Linked DNA regions of Homo sapiens: region 2 is linked to region 1. The links come from fine-mapping of genetic effects on gene expression. Tissue or cell type: putamen. Region 1 holds a variant in brackets; the other region holds the start of a gene. All regions are shown on one strand. Distances are from middle to middle.

Evidence for each region. PIP is the estimated chance that this variant, and not a neighbour inherited with it, causes the effect. A credible set is the group of variants that fine-mapping cannot tell apart.
Region 2: ITPRIP-AS1 starts here. The variant in region 1 is the best candidate, but not a certain one, in a credible set for the expression of ITPRIP-AS1 in putamen (GTEx, PIP 0.73).

Annotation. Positions count from the first base shown.
Region 1 is chr10:104,052,700-104,060,802 of GRCh38, reverse strand. It overlaps COL17A1 (collagen type XVII alpha 1 chain), which reads left to right. Exons shown (of 56, transcript NM_000494.4): 14 at 523-684; 15 at 1,085-1,165; 16 at 2,613-2,657; 17 at 3,631-3,828; 18 at 4,800-5,021; 19 at 5,402-5,431; 20 at 5,796-5,822; 21 at 6,685-6,711; 22 at 6,821-6,883; 23 at 7,668-7,772. Among named protein-coding and RNA genes, the nearest start is that of MIR936, 8.6 kb to the right of the region's middle. RefSeq lists enhancers at 5,623-6,822, 7,135-7,721. The variant G/A (reference allele first, on the strand shown) is at 3,518.
Region 2 is chr10:104,319,872-104,327,974 of GRCh38, reverse strand. ITPRIP-AS1 (ITPRIP antisense RNA 1) reads right to left here and starts at 4,611. Exons shown (of 3, transcript NR_120622.1): 1 at 4,405-4,611; 2 at 3,952-4,037; 3 at 1,230-1,636. The region is part of intron 1 of ITPRIP (inositol 1,4,5-trisphosphate receptor interacting protein); the gene reads left to right. RefSeq lists enhancers at 1-360, 361-1,006, 2,796-3,524, 3,525-4,255.

The DNA.
Region 1 (8,103 bases):
GACAAACACATAAAGTATGCAAGATAATTACAGAAAAGGATACAGATTATAAGGAAAGCAATAAGTAATGTGGTAGAGATAGGAGTGTGTGTATGAGGGTGAAGTGCTTTAGATGGGGTAGTCAGCTAAAGCCTCCTCAAGAAGGCAACTCTTAAGACCTGGAGGATAAAAATGAACCCAAGTTAGTTAAGGAAGGACTTACCTGACTGGGGGACTTTTACCCATTCAATAAAGATCCTATAATCTCCAGGAGGGGAGGCAGCCCCCATAAACCAGCCATCCAGAGCTTCTGACATTGACCCAAACTCTTGGTGGCCAGGCCCAGCCAGGCATAGAGGGTGTCCTTGGTCCCCAAGATGCTTCATAGTAACCACTGTCAGCAAGAACAAGAGACCCTCATACACACCTGCTAATTTACCTCCCTCCTCCTTCTCTTTCTTCTCCTTCCTCTTCTTGTCTTTTCTCCCCTCTCCCTTCTCCTGGCACATGTCCTTCCTTCTTACCCATTTTCTTTCTCCCCAGCCTGCACCACAAGTGTGCAGAGCGATGACCTTTTGCACAAGGACTGCAAGTTCCTGATCCTAGAGAAAGACAACACACCTGCCAAGAAGGAGATGGAGCTGCTCATCATGACCAAGGACAGCGGGAAGGTCTTTACAGCCTCCCCTGCCAGCATCGCTGCAAGTGCGTCAGATCCTGTGTGGCTTGGGTTTCAGAAGAAAGCCAAATAGTGTAGGAGACCAAATGTCCTAGCAAGGTGGTTTGGGACCCTATGAGTCATGAAACCATAGCCATCCCATTCTAATGAAAAGCACCTGTCTGAATAGTATGTTCCAGGGTCTGCCTTGAATGCAGATGAGCTGAGAAAATTCAGGCAAAGAGCTCTCAGAGAGGCATTTGGGCGACAGCAAGTCTAACCGCAAACACAGATCAGGGGAGATGAACCCCAGGAAAGAGGGGCTCTTCTTACCAGTCTAACCTAGACCTTCCCAAGCAGGGTAGTGGGCAAGGGCGGGGGGAACACAGGACAGAGTTGAGAGGTTGAGAAGAGAATATGCCAGGTTATAATGGGTTCTGTACATAGCTTCTTTTTCAGAAGACACCCTAAAAAAAGAAAAGCAAGCTGCCTACAATGCTGACTCAGGCCTAAAAGCCGAAGCTAATGGTAAGAACAAATATGATTGTTGTCCACCTTGACTTCAGCCAGGCCACATTTCATTTCATTGTCTTCGGAGACCTTGCTACTCAAAGTGTGGTCCACGGGCCAGCAGCATCAGCCACACCTGGGAGTGTGTTATAAAAGCAGGATCCCAGCCCTAGCTCAGATCTGCTGAGTCAGAAGCTGCAGTTCAACAAGCTTCCTAGGTGATTTGCATTTGCATTACTGAAGCAAAAGCCTGCCTCTGCCATGTCTACGAAGGCATTTGTTTTCTCATTTTACTTTTTCTCCATAATCTTCAGAACTAATAGAAAAATGCTTTGCAAAGCAGTTGTTAGCTTTATTTTTTTTTCTTCCCAAATATCTGCGTTCTTTGTCTGATAACCACATTTCTTGACGATGCCCTATAGGAATCTCTCCAAATCACTGATTTCAGGGAGGTCAGTAAAGGAAGGAAAATGTTAAGTCATAGAACATTTTCAAATGAATGCCAATCAAATCAGTTATCACTTTAACAAGGTGAGAGATTGGAACCTGACTGTAAGTCTTTAAAGTTAGCAGTTCCTGACATTTTAGGGGTAGGTCTAGGGCTGTGGAGTCAAAAGATCCTTTTCAGAATCTGATGAAAGGTATGAACAAATTGCCGAGTAAATTCTACACATGCCCACAAACACTCAACTTTCTTTTTCTTTTTTTGTTTTTTTTTTTTTGAGACGGAGTCTTGCTCTGTTGCCCAGGCTGGAGTGCAGTGGCATGGTCTCAGCTCACTGCAACTTCTGCCTCCCGGGTTCAAATGATTCTCCTGCCTCAGCCTCCCAAGTAGCTGGGACTACAGTCATGTGCCACCACATCCAGCTAATTTTTTTGTATTTTTAGTACAGACGGGGTTTCACCATGTTGGCCAGGCTGGTCTCGAACTCCTGACCTCGTGATCTGCCCGCCTCGGCCTCCCAAAGTCCTGGGATTACAGGCGTGAGTCACCGTGCCTGGCCTAAACACTCAACTTTCAAATAGCATCACGGACTCAGGAACAATCCTCCTCCAAGCTCATCCTTCTCATTCCCAATTCCTTCCACCCCAGGTCAGGAACTTGTGTTCAGAGTCCCTTAACCAAGAAATCAGAGTCATTTCTCACAACCACACTTATTGTTTGAATGCAAGCGGCACCCATAACTTGGTGTTCCAAAAATGTTTTGAGGTGTTAAGGTTTAAGGTCATAAGAGAATTAAAACATAGTGCTTTCTTCCACCATTAATTGTTTGCCAAGCCATGTCTTCATGGATGTAATTATCGCAAATATCAGATTAGTGAGGACTGAGATGCTGGATGTTCCTGCACGTCGTTGAAAGCAAGTTTATTAAGAAAGTAAAGGAATAAAAAAATGGCTACTCCATAGGCAGAGCAGCTAGCTCCTCCAGTTTAAAAGCTCAGGTCAATCTGTTTGTCCTTTCAGGAGACCTGAAGACTGTGTCCACAAAGGGCAAGACCACCACTGCAGGTGGGTGAGAACCGCGAACCCTGCAGTGACAGGATCCAGTGGGGCTGCTTATGGCTAATGGACCAGATGATGGTCCCTCGCCTGGAAGCAGTGCAGTGCACAGAAGCCACCAGACTCTAAAGAGTTTCCCTAAAGGCTCAGAAGGGAGCAGGGTGGGGGTCAGGGGAGTGGCAGGCTGTGGGTCAGAGGTGGCCGCAGAAGGAGCTTAGCTCAGGGGATGAAGCTAACAGGCCCCCCGCCCCCAGCTGCCCCTAATTAACACTTGTTAGTTAGGTTGTCTCCTAACACAACAGGGTGACTGTGTCTTTACACAGCAGCTCAAGAAGAGACTAAGCCATGCACGCCTCCAGCCCCTTAGCCTTTCCTCATTTCCTTCCACCGCCGTGTGATAGAAGCAGGTCAAGTCCTACCACCCCATTTTAGGGAACTAAAAACACTTTTCATTACAAAAAACATTGTTTTAATTCACTAGGCACCCCTGAAGAGCTGAGTATAATTCTAGGCACTGTAAGGATTAAAGAAAGCACTGTGTGAACTGAGGCATGGAGATGGGAACGCTCTAGGTTTGGGCCCAGTCAGATGCAGACCAATGCTATATTCAAAATAAAGATGTTTAAGCCTCGTGCTGTGCTGCTAACTCCTCTACTATTTTACATTCCTTGTCCTATTTCATTCAACAACCTTCCCAAGAAGGAGGCAATCTTTTAACCCCATGTTATAAAAACGGAAACAAAGGTGAAGTGACCTTCTCAGGTTCACACAGCTGGAGCCAGGATTGCCAGACTTCTGGTCAGCACCAGTCAGGCCCTGTGCTCAGTCCAGGAGCCAGCCCTGTCCTGGGTGGAACAGCACAGGAACTT[G/A]AAAGCCCCCAGTCGTAGTCACTCAGGCCAGAAAGTCACCAAAAGTCAGAGAATCTGGAGGGAAAAGGCAGGAGCTGCCTGCATTTGCTTCATTTTCCCTGTCTCTTTCACAGATATCCACAGCTACGGCAGCAGTGGTGGTGGTGGCAGTGGAGGAGGTGGCGGTGTTGGTGGCGCTGGCGGCGGCCCTTGGGGACCAGCGCCAGCCTGGTGCCCCTGCGGCTCCTGCTGCAGCTGGTGGAAGTGGCTGCTGGGCCTGCTGCTCACCTGGCTGCTACTCCTGGGGCTGCTCTTCGGCCTCATTGCTCTGGGTACGTGGCAAAGGCAGCAGGGCAGCCTGTGTGGTAGGAGGCAGGCCAGCCCCACTGCCTGTCAGAAGGGCAGGAATCTGTGAATGGGCCCACGTGTTAGGGGGCGAGGGGACCTGAATGCATTGGTGCAGACCCTTGTTACCGCAGATGAGTAAACTGAGGCCCCAGGAGGTACCTGGCCAAGGACATGCTGCCACTTAGTGGTGGAGCTGAATTTGGATGCAGCGCCTGATGCTCAGCCCCACCCTTGCTACACCTGTAGGCCCTGGTCTAAGCACCTGGCTGCCCTTGGTAACAAGGTCAGGACTTTCTTAGCCTTTTTGACTTTTGCTGTTTCCAAGCAGCCATATCTATTTCTTTTCTTTCTTTTCTTTTTCTTTCTTTTTTTTTTTTGAGACGGCGTCTCGTTCTGTCGCCCAGGCTGGAGTGCAGTGGTGCAATCTCGGCTCACTGCAACCTCCGCCTCCTGAGTTCAAGCGATTCTCCTGCCTCAGCCTCCTGAGTAGCTGGGACTACAGGCGCATGTCACCACACCTGGCTAATTTTTTGTATTTTTAGTAGAGATGGGGTTTCACTGTGTTAGCCAGGATGGTCTCGATTTCCTGACCCCGTGATCTGCCCCCCTTGGCCTCCCAAAGTGCTGGGATTACAGGCTTGAGCCACCGCGCCTGGCCAGCCATATCTATTTCTATCAGCTCTCACACCACCTCACAGGGAGAGTGAGGACAAGCTTTGTCACCCAGCTCAGATGAGAAGACTGACTCCCAGGCCAGGTTTCTTTAAGGCTCTGCTGTGATGCTGAGCAGCTAATCCTGCTGGTGGCCACGGCAGATTATCTCTGCATGAGTATTCTAGCATGAAGAAGCCACCACAGGCCCCAATCCCTTGTGTCAGGCTCTCCACTAGGAGCGAGTGTATGGAAGGCGAAGGACCGGGCCCTCAGTGACGCAGTGTGTGTCTGTTTGTTGCAGCGGAGGAGGTGAGGAAGCTGAAGGCGCGTGTGGATGAGCTGGAGAGGATCAGGAGGAGCATACTGCCCTATGGGGACAGCATGGATAGAATAGAAAAGGACCGCCTCCAGGGCATGGCACCCGCGGCGGGAGCAGACCTGGACAAAATTGGGCTGCACAGTGACAGCCAGGAGGAGCTCTGGATGTTCGTGAGGAAGAAGCTAATGATGGAACAGGAAAATGGTGAGAGCATCGCCGGGCACAGGGCCAGCTCCCCTGAGTCCCTTTCTTCTTTGCATCTATGTGGTATGTGTGCATGTGCTGTGAGCACCATCATCCGGCCCACTCTCGGCCTCTCTCCTCCCCTGATCCTCTCAATAGCGCTGAGAGGTAGGTGGGACCAAGACTGTGGTCCCACTTTACTCCTGGAAAAACTGAGTTCTGGAAAGAATAATTGCTCAAGATCACTGGACTAGCCAAATTTAGAATCTGATCTCTAGTCTTTGCCTCAGTTTCTTCTTCCCATACCATGATCCCCTTATTGTGTGTGTGTGTGTGTGTGTGTGTGTGTGTGTGTGTGACAGGAGATGTGAAGCTGACTCAGGATTTGCTTTTTCTTGCAGGAAATCTCCGAGGAAGCCCTGGCCCTAAAGGTATTGCCATGGATTGAACCTTGTCTCTGATTCATTTCCTGCAGTTGGAAGTGAGTTTTCTGGGTAGATTAGAAGCCTTTTTCTTTGTTCTAAATGGAAGGATGAAGAGCTGAATGATCTTATGGTATCTGTTGGGAGGTATCTGTTGGTTTTAGAGTCAGAATATCTTAGATAAGGCAGCATCTAAGAGAAGCCCAGCAATGAGCCCAAATGACATAGACTCTGGGACTGGGAGGGACTCGCCGCATGTCGCCTCACCTTGAAATACAGTTTACATCTTGTCAAATGGTTTTAAAATACAAGGCAGAGTATGGCCTTTGGGTTCTTGCCCCATCTCACAGTTTTCATATCTTTCTGGTTTCAGGTGACATGGGAAGTCCAGGCCCTAAAGGTAATTATAACATGGGCATTTTTACCTTAAATATTAGCAAGTGTTAATTGTTTCAAACAATCAGCAAGTGTCAGAAAACCCACCTTGCACTCCAAGAAGTAATTTGACAACAGATGGGACAGGTGTGTGAGGAGGAGAGGTTTCCAATCCCAGGGACCTTTGGCTGGACACAGAGCAGTTTTCCTTGGTCCAGCTGACCGGGATTGGCGAGCTTCCCTGTGCACAGGAATCTCCAAAAGAGTTTGGGCCACATTTCCCGAGCCTTTGACTCAGGGGGTATGCATGTGGGCAGGAGTCTTTATCTTAGTCATCCACGGTGATTCTGCAGCCAGAAGAATACTGAGCACCACGTTCAAGATGACAGGATCCCACCTCTCTCCAGCTCCCTCCTCACTCCCTAGGCAACCCCAGGGCAGGAAGTCAGCTCCTCCACTTTGGGGCCCTCGAGTCTCTTCTTTCCCTTCAGATCCTTGCCACCCACACCCTCGCATATACCTGGGTCATTGTCCCAGCCCTCCTTCCCCAAGTCTCCAGCCCGCACACCCCTCCTGACCATGTTAGTGGTGGGGACTGATACTGCCAGAGTACCTGAACCTGCAGTTGTCAGATAAAATACAGGACTCCCAGTTAACTTTGAAGATAAACAACAAATAATTTTTCACTATAACTTGTCCCAAATATTTCATGGGACATACTTATAACTAAAACTATGTGTTGTTTATCTGCAATTCAAATGTAACTGGACATCTGCATTTTTATTTCCTAAGTTTGGCAACCCTACCTGAATCCCACTAGTGACTGCTTTGGGAATTGGGCACAGTCTTCTGGCTGACCACTCTCTCTTTTGCCTTTGTTCCTGCAGGAGATCGAGGGTTCCCTGGGACTCCAGGTATGTACTCTCTGATGACCTCCAGGCCTGCCAGTGTTGCAGCTGCTCAATCCTAGCTGATGGCTTCTGGGAGGAAAACAGGGGCTGAGATATCCTTGTGTGTTCACAGGTATCCCTGGGCCCTTGGGCCACCCAGGTCCACAAGGACCAAAGGGTCAAAAAGGCAGCGTGGGTAAGAAACACATTTTTCTTTATTCATTTATTCCTCATTCTTTCATTCATTTAATAAACATTCATTAAGTGCCTGCTGTATGTGAGGCCTTGTTTTAGGCTCTGGAGAGACACCAGTGAACCAAACAGAGAAACCCTGCTGTTGTGGAGCTGAGATTTGGGTTTGGGAGAAAGACAGTAACTGTGAGAAATAGTGAAGTCTATAGCAGTTTACGGGTGATGCACGACATGGGAAAGGAGAGCCTGGAGGGATTTTGGGAATGAGAGCTGGGGAGAGTAATTTTACACAGGGAAGCCAGGGAAGGCCTCCCTGAGAGGCCACCATTTGAGCAAAGATTCGAAGGGCAAGAAGGAGCCAAGCAGGAGAGATCTAGGGAAAACATTCCAGGCAGAGGGAGCAGCCAAGGCCAAGGCTCAGGCCCCAGGGCAATTTTTAAGGAGCATCAGGAAGGGGAAGACCTCTGAGCTGGAAAGTCCAAAGGGATGGGCCGAGAGGAGGCAGGCTGTGTGGGGCCTCAGAGGCCAGTGTAAGGACTTTGGCTTTGACTCTGGGTGAGTTGAGAAGCCATGTGCAGGTTTGGGGCAGAGGTAGAACATGATCTACTCACATTTTCAAAGGGTCACTCTGGCTTCCAGGTTGAGCCAAGGCTATGGGGTCCAGGAGAGAAGCAAGCAGGGAGGCCAGGGAAGGGCTCCAGGCAAGCGTCTGCCGTGGGAGGCTGCCTGTGGAGCCGTTAGCTGGGGTACGGGATCCTGACTTGGAGGCTGGCCATCCCTGTCTTTAGGAGATCCTGGCATGGAAGGCCCCATGGGCCAGAGAGGGCGAGAAGGCCCCATGGGACCTCGTGGTGAGGCAGGGCCTCCTGGATCTGGAGAGAAAGGGGAAAGAGGTAAGAGGCAATTCCTTCACCGGCAGAGTTAGCTATGCCTGTGCTTCCTTCTCTCTGTCAACACCCGTCCCTCCTTCACTCTGTCTCTGTTTCTCCCCCCTTCCTTCATTTACTGAGCACCCACCCTGAGTCAGGGTCTGTGCTAGGCCCTGCAGAGACGCTGGGCATAGGCTGGGCTACAGGGCCAGGCCTAGGGCTGAGAACCCATCTGACATCCCTGGAATCCACCGGGAAAGTGGTCACAGGAGCAGTGGCCTTCCTGGAGTTGGGTGGTGAGGGTGAGGAGTCAGGCCGAGGTGGGGCTCAGGGGGCAGGGCAGGGCAGAGTCAAT
Region 2 (8,103 bases), 270 kb before region 1:
CCCTGCCCTTGCCCTGGAGGAGCTCACAGTGAGGAAGGTGATGGGGCAAGACAAAGACAGAGGCAGCTGTCGGGCACACCAGGGCGACACGGGGCCTGGAGCCAGGCTGTTGTGTGACCTTGAGCACATTGCCCCACCTCTCAGCACCTTGGGCTCCTGCCAGGGACATGAGGCTGATGGCCCCCTCCCCCGGGGTTGCTGCGTGGGTTAAATGCAATAATTCAAGGATAGAGACACATGGGACCAGCCTCAGTTGGGTGCCTGCTGTGTGCCGGTGCATCTACAGAGCCACCTGACCTACATGAGGTACCTGGTGCACTCAGTGGGGCCTAATTCATATGTCCCTCTCCCTCCCCTGTTCTCCTATCCCTTGGAAGAAAGAGGGATTTGTCTTGGGATCCTGGAAGGCTCCTTGGAGGTGGAGTCTGAGATGGGCTTGCTGTGAGGTCAGTTGGGTAGGGTTTTGGCCAGCAGAGGGGTGAAGCATGGATGTTTCCAGGAATGGTGGGGAGGTGCAGGAGCTATCTGGGGGACAGGAGATGATCTGAAGTGGCCGGGCCAGGCAGAGAGGGAACCAAGAGGTCCTCTGAGGCTGGTTGGGCCAGGCCTTGAACATTCTTAAAGCGCTGACTTGTGTCCCATGGAAACAAGACTCCCTTGAAATGGGGAGGGGAGACGTGCAGGGTTGGGGAGCTAACTGGGGGTTTGGAGTGTTAGGGAGAGCTCAGATGAGCTGACCCCAAAGGCCTACGCTGGCCAGCACACGAGAGAGATTCCATCTCACGTGGAATCCCCAGGCTTCGGTGCAGAGCAAAGGCCAGGTCAGAGGTGGCTGGGGAGACTGGAGATACCCCAACAAGAGGAAGGTCAGCGAGGGGAGCTGGCTGGGAGAGAGGAGGGTGCATTGCGCTTTGAGACTGCAGTAGTCTCCTGGGGTGGCCATAACAAGTTGCCACACACCAGGAGGGCTTAAGACAGTGGGCATTTATTTTCACAGTTCTGGAGACCAGGATCAAGGTATCAGGGCCACACTCCCTCCAGATACTCTAGAGGAGAGTCCCTCTTTGCCTCTTCCAGCTCCTGTTGTCTCAGATGATGCTCAGCTGTGGCAGCGTCACTCCCATCCTGGCCTCCGTCTCCCCTCACCTCTCCTCTGTCTCTCTCTTTTGTGTCACTTCATAAGGATACTTGTCATTGGATTTAAGGCCCACCCGGGTAATCCAGGATGATCTCATCTCAAGTTCTTTAATTTAATCACATCTGCAAAGACCCTTTTAGGTCCCATTCATAGGGGCTGGGGATTAGCGCGAGGACGTATATTTTGAGGGCTGCCATTCAACCCACACAGTTGAATGGATCTGAGATGCCCTGGAGGGAACGCGTGGGAGAAAAGGAGGTGTGGGCCAGAGCTCAGGGGTTGCAGGGGAGCCCCCTCCTTGTCTCTGCTACTGTTTTACTCCTTGTAGTCTCTTCTCACTGTCCTCTCCACAACCCAGCCATAGAGATCAGGCGTTTGTCTGTCTGTCCCAAGATGCTGTGATTTCTATGATGTCCTGCTGGAGGAGGCAGGCAGAGTGGCTGGACGGAGGGACACTCTGTCCTTCCTGGGAGAGGATGGCTTCCCTGCCTTCTCCATCTGCTCGCCGAGGGACGTGCATCAGCCGGCGGAGGAGCGGGAACAGGAAGGATGTGGCTCACCCACCCAGAGCCAGCAGAGTCCAGCCCTCTGTCCTTCCTGTGCCTCTGCTGGCTGGCAGACCACCCCCATGACCCAGTCCTGAGAACAGAGTTGGCATTCTGGTGACTTCTTGAAACCGCTCCCTCTCCCGAGAGTGGGCCTTGAGAGCACTTAATGCTTTGGACGGGTGTGAGCAGCACCTCCTGTGAGTCCGGCCAGAGTGTCCACATGCAGACAACAGAGGCTCGCTGGAGCAAAAAAAGGCAGCTTCTGCCCCGCGTGTACTTCCCCACCGGCTCGGTGGTAGGGCCACCTCAGGTGGGCACTGGGGTGGAGCTCTCCCCTCTCTGCTGTCTGTCCTGCTGCCCCACCTCACCAGAGTCCAGACTGACCCCTGGGTGCTTCTGAGCCCAGCATCCCACTCAGTCAGTCTGGGCTCTCCCCTGGGTTAGGGAGGGACAGTTGGGGCTCCTGGGGCCCACAGGCCTTACTCTAATACCAAGCGCTTCTTAGCGCAGCACCATTAGGCCTTTTTGCTTAGGCGAGCCTCTGCTGTCCGCGTGTGCACACGCTGGCTGGACTCGGGGTGCCCGGTTCCACCCACTCGAAGCATTAAGTGTCCTCAAGGCCCATTCTAGGAAGAGGGAGGGACTTAAAAAAAGTCACCAGGATGCCAACCCAACAAAGCCTCTTCTCTCTTTTCTTCTAGTCCTTGCAGAGGCCATGGGGAAGGAAGAAAATCTGCTCTGGCATTTACACTAAGTTCCTACAAGGGCTGGCACAGAGTCAGCCCTCATAAGTGCTGGTTAGGATTATTCCGAATGTGGCTGCTGGGGCCAACGAGGAGACACGGGAGTAATCAGGCCTAGGTTTGGGGAGAAAGGTGGAGCCAGTATTTCAGGGAGTCATGGACTCAGAGGAAATAGTGGGTTTGCTGAGTAGTTGCTGATGGGGTAGGAGTAAGGAGAGTCCTGGGTTAGGGGTTACCTTGAGGAACGCTTCATGGGGGGTTGCAGACCAGAGCCCACAGGCTCTGGGTGGCCACTAACATATTTTATTTCATTTTCTTTTCTTTTCAAGACGAGGTCTCACTGTATCACCCAAGTTGGAGTGCAGTGGCGCCATTTCAGCTCACTGTGACCTCCGCCTCCCGGGCTCAAGCAATCCTCACACCTAAGCCTCCTGAGTAGCTGGGACCACAGGCATGTGCCACCACGCCCAGCTAGTTTTTTTATATTTTTGGTAGAGACGGGGCTTCGCCATGTTGCCAAGGCTGGTCTCGAACTCCTGAGCTCAGGCGATCCATCTGCCTCAGCCTTCCAAAGTGCTGGGAATTATAGGTGTGAGCCACTGCACCCAGTGTTGCTCACATGGTTTTTAAGGAATTTTTGAAATAGCAGCTAACATTTAAAAATGGGGGGATTTTGACAAAGTCCAGATTAGTGGCTTTTCTTTGGGAAAAAAAAGATCTTGTCATTCTGGGTGCACAGAATGTGTGGCGTGGGGACTCGCCCCTTCAGACGAAGCATGTGCCATCCAGTCGACCAGTGTCCCCTCCTCTCAGCTGTCCACTGCAGCCCCGCTCATTTTCCCTGCGGGCTGGCCCTCCCAGACACTTGATTTTACAACCCGGGTCCTCGAGACAGGTGTCTGGAGAGAGGAAGGGAAGGAGCCCAGTGGCCACAGGGTGGCAGGTCTGGGGGAGGTGGGTTGGCCAACATGATGGTCCTGCCCAGTGGGAGAGGGGGCAGATGACTGGACGGGGTCAGGGCTGCAAGGACGCCGAGAAGAAAAGGAAGTGCGGCAAGCCCAGAGCCGCAAACGCACCCTTTCCACCTACTTTCTCAATGATCTTTTTGTTGGTCCTCTTCCTTCCTCTTTCCTCACTTCCTTTCTTTGCCTGTCCCTCCCTCCCCTTTCAGGGCCCAGCCTCCGGCCCCAGTCTGCTCACCTGCCCCTCTATATTCCCTCTCCTGTCCCCATTTGGAGTGCAAGTGAAGAGGGACCCAGCCAGAGATGCCCTGGTGGGAGCAGCTCTGAGACCTTGCACTTGCTGGAGCAAAGCCCTTCTCCTGTCCCACTGTCCTGGAAGGATGGGAGCCAATCAGGCTGAGCAGTGACACATTCAGAGCCATTGTTACTGAGCCATTTGTGCTGTGTCCTCTGTCCTGAGTTAGGCAACAAGGAGGGAGTTGGTGGAGACATGTCACTCCCCAGCTCTATCTGCCACCAGCCACCTCCTCCCAATGTGCAATAAGTCAACTCCTACTTACATGTTGGGAGCCTGCAGTGTGCCCAGCCCCGTGCGTGGTACCCTGGGGGCTGCAGGAGAACATTCAGCTTCTTGACCATGCTGGAACTGTAGGTAGGAAGGCAGGGACCGGTGGGTGACACAGTAAAGAGCAGGAAGGTGGCCTGACCTGCAGGAGTTCCAGGAAGGGTGAGATAGGCCAGATCCAGGGGCAGGTGCCTGGAGAAGGGCCCTGAGCTGGCCTTGTGCTATGGGAAGCTGGTGTCACTGCAGCATGGGGCGTGAGCCCTGCTAGAGAGAAGCATGGAATTGAGGGTGAGACAAGTAGGCTGGGCCATGGGAGGAGGGTTTCACGATGGCTCAGACCGCCCGCCCATGAGTTCCAAACTCTAAAACCAAGACTCAGGGTAGAACTCATGCTCCTTTCTCAAAGTCCTGTTTTTCTAAGGCCTGGGAAGCTCGGGAGACAGCCAACCTGGATAATTTTGGTGGTCACCACTGACAATGATGCTGCAGAGGTACCCCCAGGCAGGGGAAGAGGCAGGACCCACTCAGTTTTCCATCAGTCCCTTGAGGGGTTGGAAGGAGACCAGAGGGAGGGGCAGACTCAGCCTAGGTGCTGCTCACATTCAGCCATGCACTGCAGACTCAGGAATCCTAGAGGCCACCCAGTGACCTTCCCAGAACATCAGTCTTCTTCATCTGTAAGAGAGTTTTAATGCAACTACCTAAATGAGGTTGTGACAATTAAATGACAAAACATATGCAGAGTACTTAGCATCCTGCCTAGTATGGGGTACCTGCTTCCTAAATGGCTGGTCATGTAAACATCTTCACCTTTCACCACCCTTCCCCTGTTCTGTGCTGGAATCACTGCCAGGTGCTCCCTGGGAGGGTCCACGGGATGATACCCAGCCTGCCTCTTCTACTCCACCCACCCTCCAGGCCTAGCATGTCTTCTCTTGAGGCCTCGGTTTCTACCTCTGTAAAATAAAGAAACCTAAATTCAACTCTATATTCTGACTTTCTTAAATATTTGGCTTGATTTCCCCCCAACAACTGTGTACCTCATCAGCTGGGGCTGAGAAACTGCAGCACAAGGCCAGGATACAGAAGGAGTTCAGCCCAAACTCATGGCAGTTTGGGCCTCCCTTGGCTCCTTCTTTCTTGGAGGACCCAGAACCTAGTGAAAGGGACCCAAGTCACCCCCAAGGCCTCGGCTAAAAGTGCCCTCCCCTGCCCTCAGCCAGTCCTTTATTCCATTTCGTAAAGGAAACCTATCAGCTACTCCTTTTGGCTCTGAACGTGACGCCAGGGCCAGGCCTTCTTTTGCTGTTGTAATTAGCAGAGCTAATTGCATCTGTCAGGCTGTGTGCTGGGCAAGCCCTTGGCAATTTCCAGGATGTGGGCTGCTGTGACACTGCAGGAGCCCCACCCTCCTACCCAGAGGACGCCTGGTTTGGGAAGGGATGGTTCTCAGACATAAGCGGGCATTAGAATGACCTAGAGGGCTTGTTGAGACACAGATACTGGGCCCAGCCCTGGCATTTCTGATCAGCGGGTTTCAGGTTGCCTGTGAAAATTTGCATTTGTAACAAGTTGCCAGGTGGCACTGTTGCTGCTAAGCACGTTGAGAACCACTGTCCCAGAGGGAATACCAGGTGGCCAAGAAATGGGTCCTGGGCACCCCTGCTGCTTAAGGCTGTGGTCAGTCAACCCTCAGTGGGAGTAGATGGGCAGTGGGGCAAAAGCGGTGTGATGAACAGGTTGTGGGGCCGGACACATGCTCCTACTGTTCCTGGTTGGTTGTAGTAATTCTGTCTGGAAGGAGAGGAGGAGGTGAAGGTGGAGCCAAGGAGTTGCACACTGACATCTCCCCAACAGGTGAGGGCAGGGAGAGCTCCAGACAGGGAGAGGCCTTCAGAGAACAGGAAGGAAGCTCCCTCCCTCCTCTGCATTTTGCAGCCTGTAGCTCACGTGCCTTTTATGCCCCACATCTCATTCTGTCTGGGGACTCCATACGTAGTGGCTGTCTACCTTCCCGCGTGGATTGTAATGCTTTTGCTACCAGGGGTCAGGCCATACTCATCACTGCAGGCCCTGAAGCATCCATCATGTTCCTCGAGCTCAGTATGTGCTCCGTACATGTAGCACAGTGGAAAAACTTGAGCTTTGCTGGCAAAGACAGACAGAATGAGCTTGAATCTCAGCCCAGCTATGGCTTTTCTAGTCCTGTGGCTAGAAAATGACTTAGCCTCTTGGACTTTGGTTAACCCATCTGCAAAACAGGGATGGCACCCACCTCTTAGAAAGTTACAGTGGTCAAAAAAAAAAAAAAAAAAGAAAAGAAAAGAAACTTACAGTGGTTAGTGTGTGCAGTGCCCAGCACATCCTAGTGAGGGCTCGAGAAATGGGAGAGCTATGGGTGTTAGGCAATGCTTTGTGGTGTTTATTGGATTAAGCTATGGTGGGGAGTGCTGCAGGCTCTGGGGGACCCAGGAGTGAGGGACCCCAGTGAAGGAAGGAAGCCTTGGATTTCTCCCAGGGTCTTGGCTTCCGGCCAGCCTCACAGTAAAGGTCTGAATAAACCACTGGTCCCAGCCAGCCACCTGCAGCCCTCTGTCCGGGCCACCCAGAAGCTTCCATCTTCCCTCAGCCCCTGTTGCCCCGTGACTCCAGCGTTGCCAGGCTAAGTTTAGCTGTGAACTGCATGGGCCGCCCCTCTCTGTGGACAAGGGCAGAGGTGGAGAGGAATTCAGCAGGCTTCCTGGCAAGCAGACAGAAAAAAGCCCGCCAAGTGACCCAGGTTTATTCTCAAAGCCAAACCCACCAGCTGATGTCTCAGACCACAGGTGCGGGAGAGCCTGGTAGAGGTGAGAACTTTGGGCCAAGGCAGAGGTGGACATCCTTGGAATTGGGAGTAGGGGACTCTTTGGGGAGGCATGTGCTGGTATGTGCAAGAACATGCACACATATACACATATCCATGGTTTGTGAGAGGCTCCTCACTACCCGTCCTGTCTCAGAATGTCAGAATGCCCTGTTTCCTTCCCTTTTGTGGACAAGTCAACTCTATACAATATTTGAAGGGATTTATTCTGAACCCATCTGAATGACCAAGGCCTGAGGCACAGTCCCAAGAGATCCTGAAAATATGTGCCCCAGACAGTTGGGTTACAGCTTGATGTTACACATTTTAGGGGGACAGAAGTTACAGGCAGGCCAGGTGCTCACACCTGTAATCCCAGCACTTGTGATCCCAGGCAGATCACTTGAGGTCAGGAGTTCGAGACCAGCCTGGCCAACATGGTGAAAACCTGTCTCTACTAGAAATATAAAAATTAGCCGGGCATGGTGGGGCATGCCTGTAGTCCCAGCTACTCAGGAGGCTGAGGCAGGAGAATTGCTTGAACCTGGGAGGCAGAGGTTGCAGTAAGCTGAGATCCCTCCACTGCACTCTAGCCCAGGCGACAGAGTGAGACTTAGTCTCAAAAAAAAAAAAAAAAAAAATTACAGGCAGACCTCCATCAATGCATGTGTAAGGAATATGTTAGTTTGGTGTGGAAAGATGGGACAACTTGAAGTGAGGGCAAGGAGTGGCTTCCTGGTCATAGGTGGATTCAAAGATTTTCTGACTGGCAATTGGTTGAACGAGTTAAGTTATTATCTAAAGACCTGGAATCAGTAGAAAGGAGTGTCTAGGATAAGGGGTATGGAGACCATGGTTCTTACTATGTAGCTGAAGTCCCAGGAAGCGAGTTTCAGAGACAGGAGATGGTAAGTGTCTGTCAAACCTAAAAAGGTGCCAGACCCTTAGTTCATCTCTCCTGGATCAGGAAGAGGCCTGGAAAGGGAAGGAAATTCTGTACAGAATGTAGATCAGACTCTTAGTTCATCTCTCCTGGATCAGGAGAGACCTGGAAAGGGAAGGAGATTCTGTACAGAATGTAGATTTTCCTGACAATAGGCAGCTTTGCAGGGCCATTTCAAAATATGTCAAAGAAATATATTTTGGGGTAAAATACTTTGATTTCTTTCAGGGCCTGCTATCTCATATGATGCTATATTGGGTTGAAATTCGGTATCTTATTGCTACAGAGTCTGTTTTGTCACTCCTAGGATCTCTGTTTTAACGTTAATGCTGTTCAGTTGTGCCTGAATTCCAGAGGGAGGA